Linked DNA regions of Homo sapiens. The protein of the gene in region 1 purifies or fractionates together with the protein of each later gene. This does not show direct contact. Each region holds a gene or a part of one and is shown in the gene's direction. Other genes may lie near its edges.

The links. The genes of interacting proteins can lie anywhere in the genome.
Region 2: the proteins of DDX6 (region 1) and NUFIP2 purify together in Homo sapiens (affinity purification with mass spectrometry; 7 studies listed by BioGRID and IntAct, with this or other methods). This does not show direct contact.

Annotation. Positions count from the first base shown.
Region 1 is NC_000011.10:118,781,165-118,789,829, reverse strand, and holds part of DDX6 (probable ATP-dependent RNA helicase DDX6), read left to right. Parts: intron 1-3,311; 5' UTR 3,312-3,578; coding exon 3,579-3,778; intron 3,779-8,645; coding exon 8,646-8,665.
Region 2 is NC_000017.11:29,255,076-29,263,740, reverse strand, and holds the end of NUFIP2 (FMR1-interacting protein NUFIP2), read left to right. Parts: 3' UTR 1-7,902; downstream 7,903-8,665. UniProt on the Homo sapiens protein: Binds RNA.

The DNA of each region.
Region 1 (8,665 bases):
TTAAGAAGGGAGCAGTTATCACATAGTCTCATTTTGGATTTAAGGATATAGGAGGTCTTACTGTGCATGATGGACAGTAATGATGATATCGTTCGGTCTTTAGAGGTTGCCCTTTTCATCCTCTTAGTGCTCTGCAAACAGCTAAGTCTCTGTGAACTGCGTGATATCGCTGATCATAATATAAAACCGTCAATACAGGAAAGTAGCTGTTAACCATATCTGCTTAAGAGGTCAGAGTCTGAAGTAAACAGCTTTGTGTATGTGATAATCAGGATTTGCTTGTGAGCAACTTGTTCATTTTTTTTTTAAGGAAGGCATAATCAAGGAGCATTTTCTTCATAAATGTTGAGATCTGTTGACTTTAAAATTTTGAGTTTCACATGCCTTGGTGTATGGCAGAAAGAATCAGCACTCGTAAGCTAGTGTATTTTATATAAGAAATGTAACGGGGTTGCTGGGAGCGGTGGCTCACACCTGTAATCCCAGCACTTTGGGAGGCCAAGACAGGCGGATCAGCTGAGGTCAGGAGTTCGATACTAGCCTGGCCAACATGGCAAAACCCCGTCTCTACTAAAAATAGAAAAAATTTAGCTGCGCGTGGTGGCAGGCGCCTGTAATCCCAGCTACTCGGGAGGCTGAGACAGGGGAATCGCTTGAACCCAGGAGGCGGCGGTTGCAGTGAGCCAAGATTGTGCCACTGCACTCCAACCTGGGCGGCAGAGCGAGACTCCGCCTCAAAAAAAAAAAAAAAAAAAAAGTGTAACGGGGTTAAATCAAAAGCCAACAGAGTAGGGCTTTGTTTTCGTGTCTTTGTATGTTTTTATTAACTCCAATTAAAAGTAAGATTTCAGCCGGGCACGGTGGCTCTCGCCTGTAATCCTAGCACTTTAGGAGGCTAAGGCGGGCAGATCATTTGAGGTTAGGAGTCCAAGACCAGCCTGGCCAACTTGATAACACCCCGTGTCTACTGAAAAATACAGAAATTAGCCAGACCTGTAATCCCACCAAGCTACTTGGGAGGCTAAGGCATGAGGATCGCTTGAACCTGCGTGGTGGAGGTTGCAGTGAGCTGAGATCGGGCTACTGCACTCCACTCTGGGCAACAGAGTGAGACTCTGTCTCAAAAATAATAGGCCGGGCGTGGTGGCTTACGTCTGTAATCCCAGCACTTTGGGAGGCCGAGGCGGGCGGATCACCTGAGCTCAGTTGTTCAAGACCAGCCTGGCCAACATGTCGAAACCCCGTCTTTACTAAAAATACAAAAATTAGCTGGGCATGGTGGCGCATGCCCGTAATCCCAGCTACTCAGGAGGCTGAGGCAGGAGAATGGCGTGAACCCAGGAGGCGGAGCTTGCAGTGAGCTGAGAGCGCGCCATTGCACTCCAGCCTGGGTGACAGTGCAAGATTCTGTCTCAAAAAATACAATAAAAAATAAAAGTAAGTAAGATTTCCATTTACGGGATAATTTTAAACTGAGGTTGACTAGTTTTGTGGGTTTTGTTTGTTTGTTTGCTTTGTTTGTTTTTAAGTCAGAGTATTGCTCTTGTTGCCCAGGCTGGAGTACAATGGCATGATCTGGACTCACTGCAGCCTCCACCTCCTGGGTTCAAGTGATTCTGCTGCCTCAGCCTCCTAAGTAGCTGAGATTACAGGGCCACCACGCCCAGTTAATTTTTGTATTTTAGTGGAACGGAGTTTCACCGTGTTGGTCAGGTGGTCTTGAACTCCTGACCTCAGGTGATCCACCAGTCTTGGCCTCCCAAAGTGTTGGGATTACAGGCGTGAGCTACCGTGCCCCTCCTACCAGTTCTTTTTTTTTTTTTTAAACTATTAATTAGCTTTACTACTCTGGATTTCTTGGAAAGTTTTCTTAAAATTACTAGTGTGTTTAGTCTTCCGCGGATTTTTTTTTAAACAGGAATTTTCCTGTTTTTTTAAATTTAAAATTAGAATAGTTATTAGCTAAGTTTGTTATAAATGAATAAAATTATTAGAGTCATCTTGGTTTTGTCAATTTCAAAATAAAAATTCATTTATACAAAATTTGTGTATATCATCCGTCCTTGGGATCATTACTTGCTGGATGCATTATGGCAGAAATACACTATTCTCTTGACTGCTTCATTTATTGTTTTAAAGGACAAAAAGGAAAAAAGAAAATACATTTTTCTTCTTAAAGTTTTTTGTTGTTTTTTGAGACAAGGTCTCTGTCACCTGGCTCACTGCAGCCTCCGTCTGCCAGGTTCAAGCGATTCTCGTGCTTCAGCCTCCCAAGTAGCTGGGACTCCATTACAGGTGTGCACCACCATGCCCGGCTAAATTTTGTTTTTTGTTTTTTTTTTCTTGTTTGTTTTTGTTTTTGAGACGGAGTCTGGCTCTGTCGCTGAGGCTGGAGTGCAGTGGCACAATCTTGGCTCACTGCAACCTCCGCCTCCTGGGTTCAAGCAGTTCTCTGCCTCAGCCTCCCAAGTAGCTGGAATTACAGGCGCTCGCCACCACGCCTGGCTAATTTTTGTATTTTTAGTAGAGACAGGGTTTCACCATCTTGGCCAGGCTGATCCTGAACTCCTGACCTCATGATCCACCTTCCTCGGCCTCCTAAAGTGCTGGGATTACAGGCATGAGCCACTGCACCCGGCCTAAATTTTGTATTTTTAGTAGAGATGGGGTTTCGCTATGTTGTCCAGGCTGGTCTCTAACTCCTGACCTCAAGAGATCGCCCGCATTGGCCTCTCAAAGTGCTGCGATTACAGGCCTGAGCCACCAGCACCCAGCCCATAAAGTTTAATAGTTGAAATTTGTAAGGGCACAAAGGTGTTTTTTTCTGGAAGTGTGAAGTTCAAGTCAAAAGCTCACTTAAATCTATAAGGACTCTCGGTTGCTATTACAAGTAGAAGAAAATTAATGAATTGTCTTGTTTAAATTGTGTGATACTTCAGTGAGTTGTAATGCAATTAAGTATAATGAATCACTGACTTTTAGAGATGTCAGAGACTTAGAGAATTCATGGGGAGGAAACTGAAGAGAAGAGATTATCATTGACGAGTAGTGCTAATTTACTAGTCTCTTTCTACTTAATCTCTGGATTGCTTTGAATTAACAATTTTAAATGTTTGATATTGGCCTCATTGTGTTTTTGAGATAGTTCAAAGTTGTGTCTATCCTAGCTTGGCTCGTGATTTGGTCTAAGTGTAGCTGTATTATTAATTCTTTAATATAAAAGATGAGAATTCTTTTAAAGGGGTTCTTTTAAAAGGGAAACAAAGTTTTTCTGTTGTGTTTGCTAATTTAATTTTGTTTGTTTGTTTCAGATTGACGTGAGTGAATTCAGATATAACTCAAGCTTGTTAGAGGGCTTTTTAAAAATAAAAAGTTGATTCCGTGCAAGAGAGCAAGTTACTGCTGCTTACCGTTCAGAGACTTACAGGTGCTTGCCTGCATTGCAATAAAGGACTCATTTATTGAGCAAGACTTATATTTATCTCTTCATTTTGGAGAGCCTAATAAACTGTTATTACAGTTTCTCTACTGACTTTCAAAAGTTTTGAAGTTTGAAAGACCTTTGCAATTAAAACAGCATGAGCACGGCCAGAACAGAGAACCCTGTTATAATGGGTCTGTCCAGTCAAAATGGTCAGCTGAGAGGCCCTGTGAAACCCACTGGTGGCCCTGGAGGAGGGGGCACACAGACACAGCAACAGATGAACCAGCTGAAAAACACCAACACAATCAATAATGGCACTCAGCAGCAAGCACAGAGTATGACCACCACTATTAAGTAAGTGTTAGAGTAAATTATTAATAAACACTTGTGGGGAACCAAGATTTGTGTTACTTTGGTGTTGACTATTAATACTTATGCCTTAATTTAACCATTTTGATTCCAAATAGAGGACAGATGACTTTGTTTTATGGCCAGTAGGTATTTGCAATAGAATAATATATTTCTGCCATAATTTGTTCAGCAAGTAGTCATCCTGAGGTCAGATGATACACACAAATTTTGTATAAATGGTTTTTGGAAACATTTCTGGCTTTCATAATTAGTGTAAAAGTTATTAGCTTAGTTTGTTGTAAATGAATAAAATTATTAGTCATCTCGTTTTTGTCAGTATAGTTTTTTTACGACTGCACCTTACCCTAGTTAAACAGCAGATAAAGCCAACTTTATGTATTAAATTTAAAGACTCAGTCTGAGTCTTTAGAGTCTTTAAAGACTTGCCCAGCCTTCTGAACTCCAAGCATTATTCACTCAGAAAATTTTCTCGTAACTTTTTTTAGCTTATGGAACTTAGCTTTTTTACTTTAAAAAAAAAAAAAAGTTGGCTGGTTGAGGTGACTCATGCCTGTAATCCCTGTACTTTGGGGAGGCCAATGTGGGAGGATCACTTGAGTCCAGGAGTTTGAGACCAGCCTAGGCAACATAATGAGACTCTGTCTCTACCCAAAAAAAAAATTTTTAATTTTTTTCCTCCTTTTACATATAAAAAGGGAACTAAGAATTTTGAACTCACAGAACACAGTTCTGAACAGTCTCAGAAACCTTTTGTTAACCTTAAAATTGAAGAGCCTCCTCTTACTAGAGGATATTTTTTCTTTTAAAGCTGAAAGTATGTAGGCTATTTGTTACTTTTAAGTGCATAGTTTAAATTACAATATTTGAATGGTAACCATCACTTTAAAGATTCAGTTATAGGAAATTAACATTTAAGATTCTTGACTCCAGTTGATGTTTGGCTTTTGTTAAGAACTTGCCATATAGGTCCGGGTGCAGTGGCACACGCCTGTAGTCCAAGCACATTGGGAGGCCAAGGTGGGCGGATCACCTGAGGTCGGGAGTTCGAGACCAGCCTGACAAACATGGAGAAACCTTGTCTCTACTAAAAATAAACCCCGTCTCTACTAAAAGTACAAAATTAGCTGGGCGTGGTGGCACATGCCCATAATGCTACTTGGGAGGCTGAGGCAGGAGAATCACTTAAACCCGGGAGGCGGAGTTGCAGTGAGCCGAGATTGCACCATTGCACTCCAGCTTGGGCAACAAGAGCGAAACTCCATCTCAAAAAAAAAAAAGGCCAGGTGCGGTAGCTCACGCCTTTAATCCCAGCACTTTGGGAGGCTGAGGCAGGTAGATCACGAGGTCAAAAGTTTGAGGCCAGCCTGACCAACATGGTGAAACCCTGTCTTTACTAAAAATACAAAAATCAGCTGGGTGTGATGGCATGCGCCTGTAATCCCAGCTACTCAGGAGGCTGAGGCGGGAGAATCACTTGAACCCGAGAGGTGGAGGTTGCAGAGAGCCAAGATCGTGTCACTGCACTCCAGCCTGGGCAACAGAGAAATACTCCATCTCAAAAAAAAAAAAAAACTTGCCATATAAAATAATTTAACCCTGGGAATCTTTATAAGATGTTGACACTGGGTTACTGAACTGAGGTATATGTTTTATTACAACCTAGATCTTTTCACTTCCTACAGAAAAATAGCTTATACAAGCTACCAGACTGTCATATAGTTACCGTATGTGGTTCACTAGGACCTCTAAGAACTAATTTTCAGCAGAATTGGTTAGGTCATTGGGAGAATTGGTATTAGTGTATATTCTGTTATTTTTAAGGTGAATGCTTTAATTGGTATAGAAATGAATACTACTTCAGTTGTAGTTTGTCTTGGCAGAATGTAAGTAGGTTAGCAAAATTTAGACTATTTTTAATTTTTTTTATAACTTTTTTTTTTTTTTTTGAGACAGGGTCTCACTTTGTTGCCTAGGCTGGAGTATGGTGGCACGATCATGGCTCACTGCAGCCTCAACTTCCCAGGCTCAAGTGATCCTCCTGCCTCAGCCCTACAAATAGTGGGGACTACTGGCATGCACCAGTAGCGACGGCGTTTTGTCATGTTGCCCAGGCTGGTCTGGAACTCCTGAGCTCAAGTGATCTGCCCACCTCGACCTCTCACAGTGCTGGGATTACACATGTGAGCCACTGCGCCCAGCCTATTTTTAATTTTTTTTTTTTTTGAGATGGACTCTCACTCACTCTGTTGCCCAGGCTAGAGTGCAATGGTGTGATCTCGACTCACTGCAACCTGCACCTCCTGGGTTCAGTTCAAGCCATTCTCCTGCCTCTGCCTCCCAAGTAGCTGGGATTACAGGTGTCCACCATCACGTCTGGCTAATTTTTGTATTTTTAGTAGAGATGAGATTTCATCATGTTTGCAGGCTAGGCTTGAATTCCTGACCTCAGGTGATCTGCCTGCCTCGGCCTCCCAGAGTGCTGGGATTACAGGCGTGAGCCACTGCACCTGGCCTATGAGAATATTTTCTATTTAAAAAATTCTGGGGCTGGATATGATGGCTCATGCCGTTCATCCCATCACTTTGGGAGGCTGAGGTGGGAAGATCACTTGAGGCCAGGAGTTTGAGACTAACCTGGGCAACATAGCAAGACCCTGTCTCTACAAATAATAAAGGCTGCAGTGAGCTATGATCGCACCACTGCACTCAAGCCTGGGTGACAGGGTAAGACCCCATCTCAAAGAAATAAAAAATAAATTCTGATTTGGGGACAACAGTGGATTTTGATTTTTCTTTTCTGGTTTTCCTACGATTAATGGTTTCTTTTCAGTTCTGCGGTTCTTCAAATCTCATTTTCTCTGCCCTCTCTTCCATGAAGTCCTCTAGATCCCATCAAGTGTCTCAGAACACTTCTAATACTTAACCTCCGTCACTTACTTTCTCATTTTAAATAGTTTTTTCATCTCATAAGATTATAAATTTCTTGTGGTCAGGTTTTGCATTGTATCTTACGCATTATTATTCACTATTTTGTTGAATTCAACGGTATGTCAAACTGACATCAGAAACTTCGATGATACAGGCTTAGATGAAAGGCTTTAGTAGGCCGGGTGAGGTGGCTCACGCCTGTAATCCCAGCACTTTGGGAGGCCAAGGCAGGAGGATCACGAGGTCAGGAGTTTGAGACCAGCTGAATCCCCGTCTCTACTAAAAATACAAAAACTAGCCAGGTGTAGTGGCAAGCTCCTGTAATCCCAGCTGCTCTGGAGGCTGAGGCAGGAGAATTGCTTGAACCCCGGGAGGTGGAGGTTGCAGTAAGCCGAGATCATGCCACTGCACTCTAGCCTGGGTGACATAGCAAGACTCCATCTCAGAAAAAAAAAAAAAAGGCTTTAGTACAGTAGTAGTCTTGGAATTGGTAGCAAAAAGTTACCAATGTTAGAGTATGCATTATGTAGGACCTAGTTTTAAGTAAAATAAGTGGTCTTTTTGTCTGTGAATGGAGCATTTGAGATGTTTTGGGGACTCTGGTTATGTAAGAACAGCTGCAGTGAAAACTTTTTCGAAGATGTCACAGTTAAATACTTTGTCTGCAGATGTTCCCTGATCTTTTTTTTTTTTTTAAAGATGCTTTGAGTATTTATTACTTGAGGTTTTTACCTGGCCAAAAAGAGAGTTTATTTATATTCTCCTTGTTTTTATTCTCTTTCATGATTTCTAGCATTTCCAATAAAAAAGAAAGATTAAGAGATGCTCATTGGCTAATACTGTGCTATTATTTTGCCAGGCACTGTGCTGAGTGCATTATATCAATTGTTTGATGTAACTGTTAACCTATTTTGTTTTATTTATTTATTTGGAACGGAGCCTTGCTCTGGCGCAGGATCTTGGCTCCCGGGTTCAAGCAATTCTCCTGCCTCAGCCTCTTGAGTAGCTGGGATTACAGGCACATGCCACCATGGCTGGCTAATTTTTGTATTTTTGGTAGAGAGTGGGTTTCACCGTATTGGCCAGGCTACTCTCGAACTCCTGACCTCAGGTGATCCGCTTGCCTTGGCCTCCCAAAGTGTTGGGATTACAGGTGTGCGCCCACCTTATTTATTTTTGAGACAGAGTCTCCCTCTGTCACTCAGGCTGGAGTGCAGTGTCGTGAGCTTGGCTCACTGCAGTGTCCGCCTCCCAGGTTCAAGTGATTCCCCTGCCTCAGCCTCCCGAGTAGCTGGGACTACAGTTGTGTCCCACCATGCCTGGCTAATTTTTGTATTTTCAGTAGAGGTGGGGTTTCACCATATTGGCCAGGCTGGTCTCGAACTCCTGACCTCAAGTGATCCGCCCACCTTGGCCTCCCAAAGTGCTGGGATTACTGATGGGAGCCACCACGCCTGGCCTGTTAACCTATTTTAAAAATGAGAATAGCCGGCCATGGTGGCTCACACCTATAATCCTATCACTTTGGGAGGCCGAGGCAGGTGGATTTCTTGAGCCCAGGAGTTATATAAGATATATAAAATCTTACAGTTTTTAAATGTTGAGAACTAATTTAAACTCATTTAAATTAAAACACATGCTGTGTAGGTCAAACAAAACACCTTTTGACAACAGTTACACTGTATACAATATTGCTTAAGAGGATGGATGCCTTAATCCCTTCTGTTCTTGATTTTTTTATCCTCCTGAGATTCTCTATAAGAACACTTTTTCTAAAGTTGTTTAATTATCTTGTTAGATATATTAAATGGAATATATTAAACTTACTGTGCTTTTTTAACACTTAATTATAATTGAGATGAATCATCTTTGTTAGGATGCTATGAATTTTGATACTTCAAGTTTACTGTATTCTCTCTAGACCTGGTGATGACTGGAAAA
Region 2 (8,665 bases), on another chromosome or scaffold:
CAGAACAAGCAATTGGCTTAGATATACAATCTGGAAAAATATTCCTGTGCCCATATTTTAATGTAATTGTATAACTGGGAGCAAAAATATATTCTGCTTTTCAACTGTAGGTGCTCCAGACTTGCTCTCCGTCACTAACACTAAATGTGCTGTTTTCCTTGTTTTTCATCAAACATTTAAGACAAACTTAGACCTTTCTGTAAATTATCTTTTAATTTCTCAGCAAAATCTAAAAGGGGAAGAAAAAAGTCCATGAAAACTAAAACTTTTCATGTTTTTAGCCAGTGAGAAGATAATAAACCCTGACTGTAGAAGGTGTGTTTTCATGCAAACTATACTTCTGAGCTTGTTAGCTTCTAATTATATCTTAATAAATATATTTTATTACTAGAGCAAGATGGGTTTTTAAGGAAAATAATGTGAAATTCTGGAAATTTTCTTTGGGGCAGAGAAGAGCATTAGCCCTGTCTTATCATTACATTGCCATCCTGTTGCACTGCAGCTTGTGTATAGCATGCTAAAATAAATTTTTGTGTGTGTGTGCAGAAATTAAGGGTCCAATTGAGATTGGGTGATGTTAGTAACATAATAACAAGTTGTCTGGCCTGACACAGCATCACATCACACACACAGAAATTAGTATATCCATGTATGTCAAATACAGGTTAAAATATCAGGGCATTTATATAAAGAGTTGTAGTCTTCTGATAAAAGTAGACTGGATCCCCTGGGGTATTTGGGGAGAAAGTAACTACTTTGGCTCTACCCCTAGAAATGTCCAGTTTTGAGTGACTGTAGTATGGATGGGTTTTCTTGTTTTGTTGATTATTTGAGGCTTTTAAAACAAGTAGTTCATGAAAGAAGCTGTTGGACTCAACATAGAGTAGAGTAACTATCTTTTTAGTCTGGATTTCTGCCCTGCTTAGATTTTAAAAGTATAAGCATGGATTGCCAATTCCACTTGATGTAAACAAAACTTTTTTTTATACATAATATATATATATATATATAAAATAACTTATTGTATCAGTCCAGGTTCAGAAACTTGTGGTAGGCCAGTTCCAGATAGTTTCATTTCACCTGTAAACTGTATCACTTTGACTGATATTGTAATTTTCAAATGTATAATATGTTTACAGATGTGCCCTGCATTTAGTCTGCCTTGTTCCTATTTTGATTTTTGTTGAGTCTCCTGCCTGCTTGCCAAAAGCTAGGATGCTTCAGGCCCATGTACAATTGAAAGCAGAGGCATCCTTGAGCTTTAAAGCATTGAACAAACTGGAAAATGCAACATACCACATAACTGAAGTGAAAAAAGTCTGTGTTTTTGTGTTTTTTTAAATAAAAATTTTCAAAAAGTTAAAAAAAAAGACATATAAGGTTGATTAAAGGGAAAAAAGGCTCCAGTTTGTTTTACAGGTTTTAAAGTTCTGCTGTGTGTTCAATTGCCTTGTGTAACCACTTGTCGCCTTAGGGCCAGATTCCCCTCTCTAGTCCCCTTTTTTAAATGTCCATTTTGCTTGCCTGGAATTTTAAAGTTCTTCCGTCTCACAACTCACAAGAAACTTTCTGGGTTTGTGACATACAGAGGTTGAATTGAGTATATATTTGAAAAGGAAAAAACAAAAAACAAACCCAGACCCCACCTGAATTGGGCTTTTTAACTTAGAAGCAACACTTGATTAAACATCTTTAGAAAGCTATTGCTTTTCTAATTTCCTTCCATATCCCTCAGGCCTCAGTGTTCAGAGAAGCCAAAAAGAATGTATCACTTCTCTGTCTGTCCAAAGGTTTTTGAGAGTCTCACTTCTAAATGAAACAATGCAACATTTCACTTTGATTTCTCCACTGAAATTTCCTTGATTATATGGTTAGAGGTATGTAGTTAGGAATGTCTGTTAACTTTCTGAGAACCCTAGTGCCCCATCATATTAACTGTCAGTATTTTGGGGGCATTAGGTTAATAGACTTAATTGCCTAGGTACAAGCAGGACTTTGGGACAAATCTCTTTGTGCTGTTTGGTAACACTTAACTCTATTTGTTGCAATCTTTCTCCTTAGGTCCTCACACAATTCCTTACAGAGCACTTATTAAAAAAAAATCTTAAGAGTTGATCTGTTTTCTGATTATTTTGTGTAAGCTTCTAAACAAACTTCAGCTGTGATTAATTTAGCACATTTAAATAACGTGTTATTGTTTGGTATAAAGAATTTTCCTTCAACTCAGAGTATTAGTACTGTAGCATAAACCAAATACAGTCTAGAGGGGATTTTTAACATCCCTCCATTATAAAGACTGAAAAAGGGGTGTGTGTGTGTGTGTGTGTTTATGTATGTATGTATGTGTGTGTGAGGAAAAGATGGAGATATTAAAAATTAGTAAATGAATGTGTATAAGACATTAGTATTCAGAGAATGAACTTGTATTTATTTTGTGCCATTTGTTTTCATTACACAGAAAAAAGTCAGGTGGTTTAAATCCTTAAAAGGGTAGTATTGAAAAATGGCACTAAGAATGAAATTATGACCTATTTTTTTAATAGCTATGAAGATACTAATTATGGGTGAAGATTTCTTTTTAAATCTGTTTTGATTATTGTAGGCTTCTGTGTCACATACCACTCTTGTAGGTGTCCTCAATAATCCCCTTTTCCCACAAAATACACAGGGTGTATTATCTTTCTCTTTATTCACCCCCACTTTGCTGAACTGAAGTTAATTACATAGCCTTTCTTCTAACCTCCTTAGTAATGAACCTTCACATAAAGTGTATTTACAGCGTCTGTGGTAGCCAGCCCTTCCTCCTCTACTTTCTAGGAGGGGATAGCCAATAACTAGGAATTTAATGACAGATTTTTTTTTCTTTGAAATAAATGGCCAGAGTTTCTCCATTTTAGAATTTTGTTGTCCTCCTTAATCATCTGCTTACCTAGTCATTACTCAATCTGCAGAAACTTCATAAAGGAAAAGTGCTGCATTGTTTTTACAAATAACAGTTTGTAGGGAAAATATGACAAACCTCAACTATGGGAGTTGTCCACAATACAAAATTTTGAAAAAACATTACATAGTGATAATATCATACTTGGTTGTTAGGCTTGTTGCTTCCCCACATCAGAGGCATCTAATGATTTATCTTTTGTAATTGCTGTGAACTTTTTTAAATAAGCCATTTAGTGTGAAATTGTCATGTATCAAATGGCTATTGGAAATGGACTTTACTCAATTTTAATTCCACTGTAAATAAGGACGGAGTCATTCCTACAAGGCTCTCTTCAGAGAAATAGATTAAAAGTCCAATTTCCAGGTATTATTAGTATAGTTATGCCGCTGGGCCACATCCTCAACAACAGCTGATCCCTCTTGTATAAATATGTTAACTGTGCAGAACAGTTATGTTATGGGACAAATATAATGGTCATTATGGTCAGATTGGTTGATGCCACACCAGTCAAGGTAGAGTCTGATAGGGCAGTATCTTAATAACCCTACCCATGACTTAACTGTTGGATTTGAAAGGAAAACGTAGGATTTGCTCTTGTCCCCTTACCCGCCACAAAATTTTGATAATTTGTTTAAAAGGGAGAGGCAGAGGAAAAGACTAGAAGCATAAATAGCTGCTTTAGGTTTGCCAGAGGCACATAGCTTAACATTAGTTCTTAATATCGATGTTATTTTTACTAATGTAATTAATCAACAGAGCACCAAGATTCTTTCATGGTGAAAAGGGTGGGCTTCTGTTTTGGTATCTTAAAATGTTTCTTTTAAAATATACATCACCTGTGTGAGAACCAGGACCACCTGGGAGAGTGATGAATCATTGGCTCCACTCAAAAGCATTGCTTTACTGAGTTTTAAATTTCACACTGTTTTGCCGCTCAAGAAAGGTCTTAAAGTAGTTAAAGGATGCCAGCAATAGTGCGAATAGAATTTTCGGTTGTCTGCATAATAAAAACACCCATTGCAGCATGATTGGTATGTTGCTCTTGCATTATTGGGAATGGTAAATCAGTTATGGGCTAGAAACTATGGAATGGCCGTCCTCATATGTGATGGGATTGCTGATTCAGACTTCCCTATTTTCCATACAATTTTGTTATGTGCAGAGTTCTAAAGCCATTTTATAATACTGCAGTATCCCCCCCCCCCCCACCTTTTTTTTTTTGAGACGGACTGTCTGTTGCCCAGGCTGGAGTACAGTGGCGCAATCTTGGCTCACTGCAACCTCCACCTCCCTGGTTCAAGCAATTCCCCTGCCTCAGCCTCCCATGTAGCTGGGATTACGGGCGCACACCACCACACCTGGCTAATTTGTATTCTTAGTAGAGACGGGGTTTCACCATGTTGACCAGACTGGTCTCGAACTCCTGACCTCAGGCAATCTGCCCGCCTCAGCCTCCCAAAGTGCTGGAATTACAGGTGTGAGCCACCGTGCCCGGCCAAGTATCTCTTTTCTACAGCCTTATTAAACTAACTACAAACATTTATTTTCCAATTTAGTTTTACTTTCAGTGCATATCAAAGTTGTTGTACTCTTCAGACCAACAAATTAACTTGAGGGCAAATTACATAGCTTTCCATGTACCCTTTTTTCCTCAGGTGCTAATCAAAGGCTCTGAAAATGGATACTGCTTTAGTGATGTCTGCTTTATTCTTAAAATGCTTATTTCTTTTGCTAGATGTAAAGATTTGGTGTTAACAAAAGTGGTTTTAATATGTAAATATGAATGAATGCCTTTAGTTTACCCTGTTTGTCTATTATTAATCTGTTTTCATTTATCCTTCATAGAGGAGGATCCTTTCATGATCTTGAATACATTTCATTAGATATTGTTGCATTTTAAGAATGAAAATACAACTGTTTTCTGTCTTAGATTAATCCTGCTGCTATGAGAAACTGAAAATCAAGAATGTGATGCACTTTTTACATTACTATATACCATACATATACCATAGGTTGCTTTGATACCTTTCCTGTAGCACAGCCACTAACAAGAGTGAATGAATTATAAAATTCTTTTTGGGAGGGAATCAATACAAGTAACTAATTCTTAGCTGATATTGTCCTATGAAGGACAATAACTTAGGAATATAAGAATTCTGTTAATAGTACACTTTTTGGCCTTAAATGTCTTCTACTACTGAAAATAGTTTAAATCTTAGCTTTGTTTCTATTATTCCCTCTCTCTGCCTCAGAAAGAGGAATTGGGAAGAATGGCTTAAAGGACGTGGTGTCATTGATTTGTTGCTGATCTTTTAGAAAACATTTGTCTATGTAAGCTGGGGACTTATTTTTTGTTTGTATATAGAGGGGAAATAGTGCTGCCCTGAACCAATCAGATTTAGTTTAAATCAAATCAATCAAAACTCCAGCTGTTTCTCTTGTCTTTTTACTTAGCAAAGGAAAACTTTAGTGAATGCTACTTGACAAGAAGAAAAGTCATTTCTCAAGCACATACCCAAACTTGAAGGTGATTGAACCCAAAATAATGGGTGGGAAACACCAAATGAGGTGGAGGAATGAGAAAGATGTGTGGGCCAAAGCTATCTGGTTATATTTTGATGTTGCCAATATCGCAAAGCCAAAATTTTAATTTGCTTATTTAATATATTTGTTGGCCAGAGATCTATTTTTATATCAATGTGCCTTGCATGTATATTAAAAAAAAAAAATTGGAAACGCCATGTAGTAATGCCTGAGATAGTCGATGGTTCTTACCACCTCACTAATTTTTATGCAGTATGAAATGCTCATTCTATTGCCCAACTGGTGCTCTCTGTTTAAAGTTACAGATCTTGCGAAACTGGAACTATTTTATAAGCTGGGGAAGTGATTTACTTTTTTTGTTGTATCTTTTTTGTTCTTAGTCTGTTAGTGGCTGTCCTGTAGTGGGAAATAGTAAAAGGATTCTTCACTCCCTTCTCCCCTCAGCACCTTCTTCAAGTAAACATTTCTTGTGTGCTTTGAAAAAAGTTTCAGCTTGCTGTCTCTTTTAGTGTTTTAAAGAAGTGTTATACAAAGCATTGTTTGCAAAATATAGGGAGATAATGGAGTCCACTTTAATTTGGAATTCTGTGTGAGCTATGATCCAAGTTATCAGCTCTTTCCAACTTTAAAAATTTTGTTAAAAGCACCTTGCTTAGAAAATTTTAAATATTTATGTCTGCAACAATTGTCTCAAAATAATAAACTGTGCAATTCTTGTCATTAAAAAAAAAAAAGATCTGAATTTTCCCTAATGTGACTTGTTAGTTTCTCTCTGTATTTCCTGCCAGTGTAAATGTGAAAGCTTTGCTTGCATTACGTTTTAGAAATGCATTTTGCACACTCGAATTTTGCCGAAGCTCCGTGAAAAGGTTAGATCTAAGTAGATGAATAAAGCTATGCACATGTTTTGAAAGTTTAATTTGTGTGTCATTACCAAAAGTGACCGATTTGTCCTTACTACTTTGCTGTTGTTAGCTTTACCATCTTTGGAAACTTGGCTCAAAGTTACATAGTTCTGGGCTAGCTCATCAGTGGAACTAGGAGAGAGGAAAACTGGCACCTATTTTAATAAAGTTCAATTTAAACGAGAGCTTGACTTGTATCTATTAAAGAGCTTTTCTTGAAACAGGGCAGTTTTATCAGCTTTACAAATCATTGGATGCTCTTCCTTAGTAATATTTTGGTTTATTTGATCAAATAGAAATGGAAAGTAATTCAAACTGAAAGACCCTTTTTTGTCATATGGAACTTGGTGACGATTTTTTGTCTTAAAGCTGGTTTAAAGGTAGGATAGGCTTTTACCTTTATTGCTTTAGCATAAATTTGGTTTACTGAATTGACTGGCTTGAGATTAGAATTATTCAGTTGTTTGTAAGATCAAAGCACTGGTTGTTTTAAAGATAACGTGTATCTTTTAAAAAATTGCCCAAGCTGATTAGAACAAGTTTAGGAGTTGGGTACATTTGGTTCAAGTGCTGCAATCTGTATGTACTAAATAGCTTTACTTTGTGTATGTGTACTTATAATGTGTAGATGTACTACTACCCAGGTTTTGTCAAATCATCTTTTTTAAAGTTTTTTTTTTTTTAATTGGTTCAGGACCTTTGTAGGAGAGGCTAATATGTTTAAGTAGAAGATATTACTGATAGCATTTTCCCCATGCTCCTACATAAAAAATAAATATTTCCATTTTATAGCTTTTTCAATATACAGAAGAGGGTTACTTCTTCATCAAGTATATTGTTGCCTTTGAGGACACAGCAAAACCCTTCTATATGTATCTTCATTGATAGTGGCAGTTAAAAACTAAGTTATCCAGTTAAGACTTAAAAGGTGACCCATATTAATTGCATGGCCTTAAAAGGCAGAAATGCAGGAGTGTAGCAAGCATCATTTTAGATGGCTATGGTTCCTCTTCCGCATCTGTCAGTAGTTCACTTATGTTCAGTCTTAGAACCTACTGGAGGAGTGAAGTAATTTCTCTGTCTCGTGCAGAGGCACTAAGGAGCTGAGTTACCTCTTAATCTGGGGGAATGGATAATAAGTGGAGTACAGTTATGTTAAAGGATGTTCCCCCCGCTCAAAAAAAAGTTTCAATGTTTGTTTTGCCCAGTCAAAAATATAGGTCTTTTCTACATATAAGAACAGTCACCAGAAATTTTCCCTTTTGCTAAATGCTTAGGTATTTGCTATAGCTGTTTCTGATGTCATGGATTCTGAGGAAGTGTCATTTACGTGATGATCTTCCTTTATTGATGTCTTCATCATGTTCAGTGTTTTAAAAATATAAATTACAAACACTCTACAACCATACCCAGATTTACTTATTTTATCAGAAAAAAAACTTGAGAAATTTGTAGATCAAATTGAGAGACAATAAGTGTACATTGTTGAATAAAAAATTTTAAAGTTTCTGAGGTGTTTGTTATCTTTTGTGTGCTTTAATTTTTTAAAAAGTCTTTACTGACTAATCTTAAATTCAGCTGATAAAAAGTAAAAAGAAAAACAAACCGAAAACTAAGTTTGTGACATTGATAATGATTTTTTTCCAAAGGGTCAAATATGTGAAGAATTTAAGTCTTCAGTATACTATGGTCCTATGATTTTAAAAAAATTTTTTAATCATACAGGTTTTTACAGTGCTTAGAATTAGCTTGCTTATTGAAAAATCCAGAGCTATCCTGCCTTTTTGCAGGACATTAAGCCTTATGCCCTTCCAATTGAAATAAATCAAAATTGAGCTAAGCAGTTGAGCAACTAGAATGTTAAGTTGCCAAGATTCTGGATTTATTCATAACTTTATGTTGAAATATGTGGCAGTACACACTGGAGAAACTTCCTGTTTCTTTAGTACTGATTTGTCACAAGGTGAAAGGAAAATCAATGCCAACTTCAACATTATTAGAAAGAGCAGGAGACGGGAGGAAAGGACATAAAAACATTTACCAAAAGTGTCAGTCGCTATAGAGATTGATAACATTTAGGTCATATGCTTTATTGTTCTTTGAGATAAGGAATAATTGTCCTTGGCCTGGTGAGTGACTTGCAAGGACACAAAAGAGAATGTGGAGTTTTATGGAAGCTTGACTTAAAAAATTCTCATCCAGACAGGCGCAGTGGCTCAACACCTGTAATCCCAGCACTTTGGGAAGCCACAGTGGGTGGATCACTTGAGCC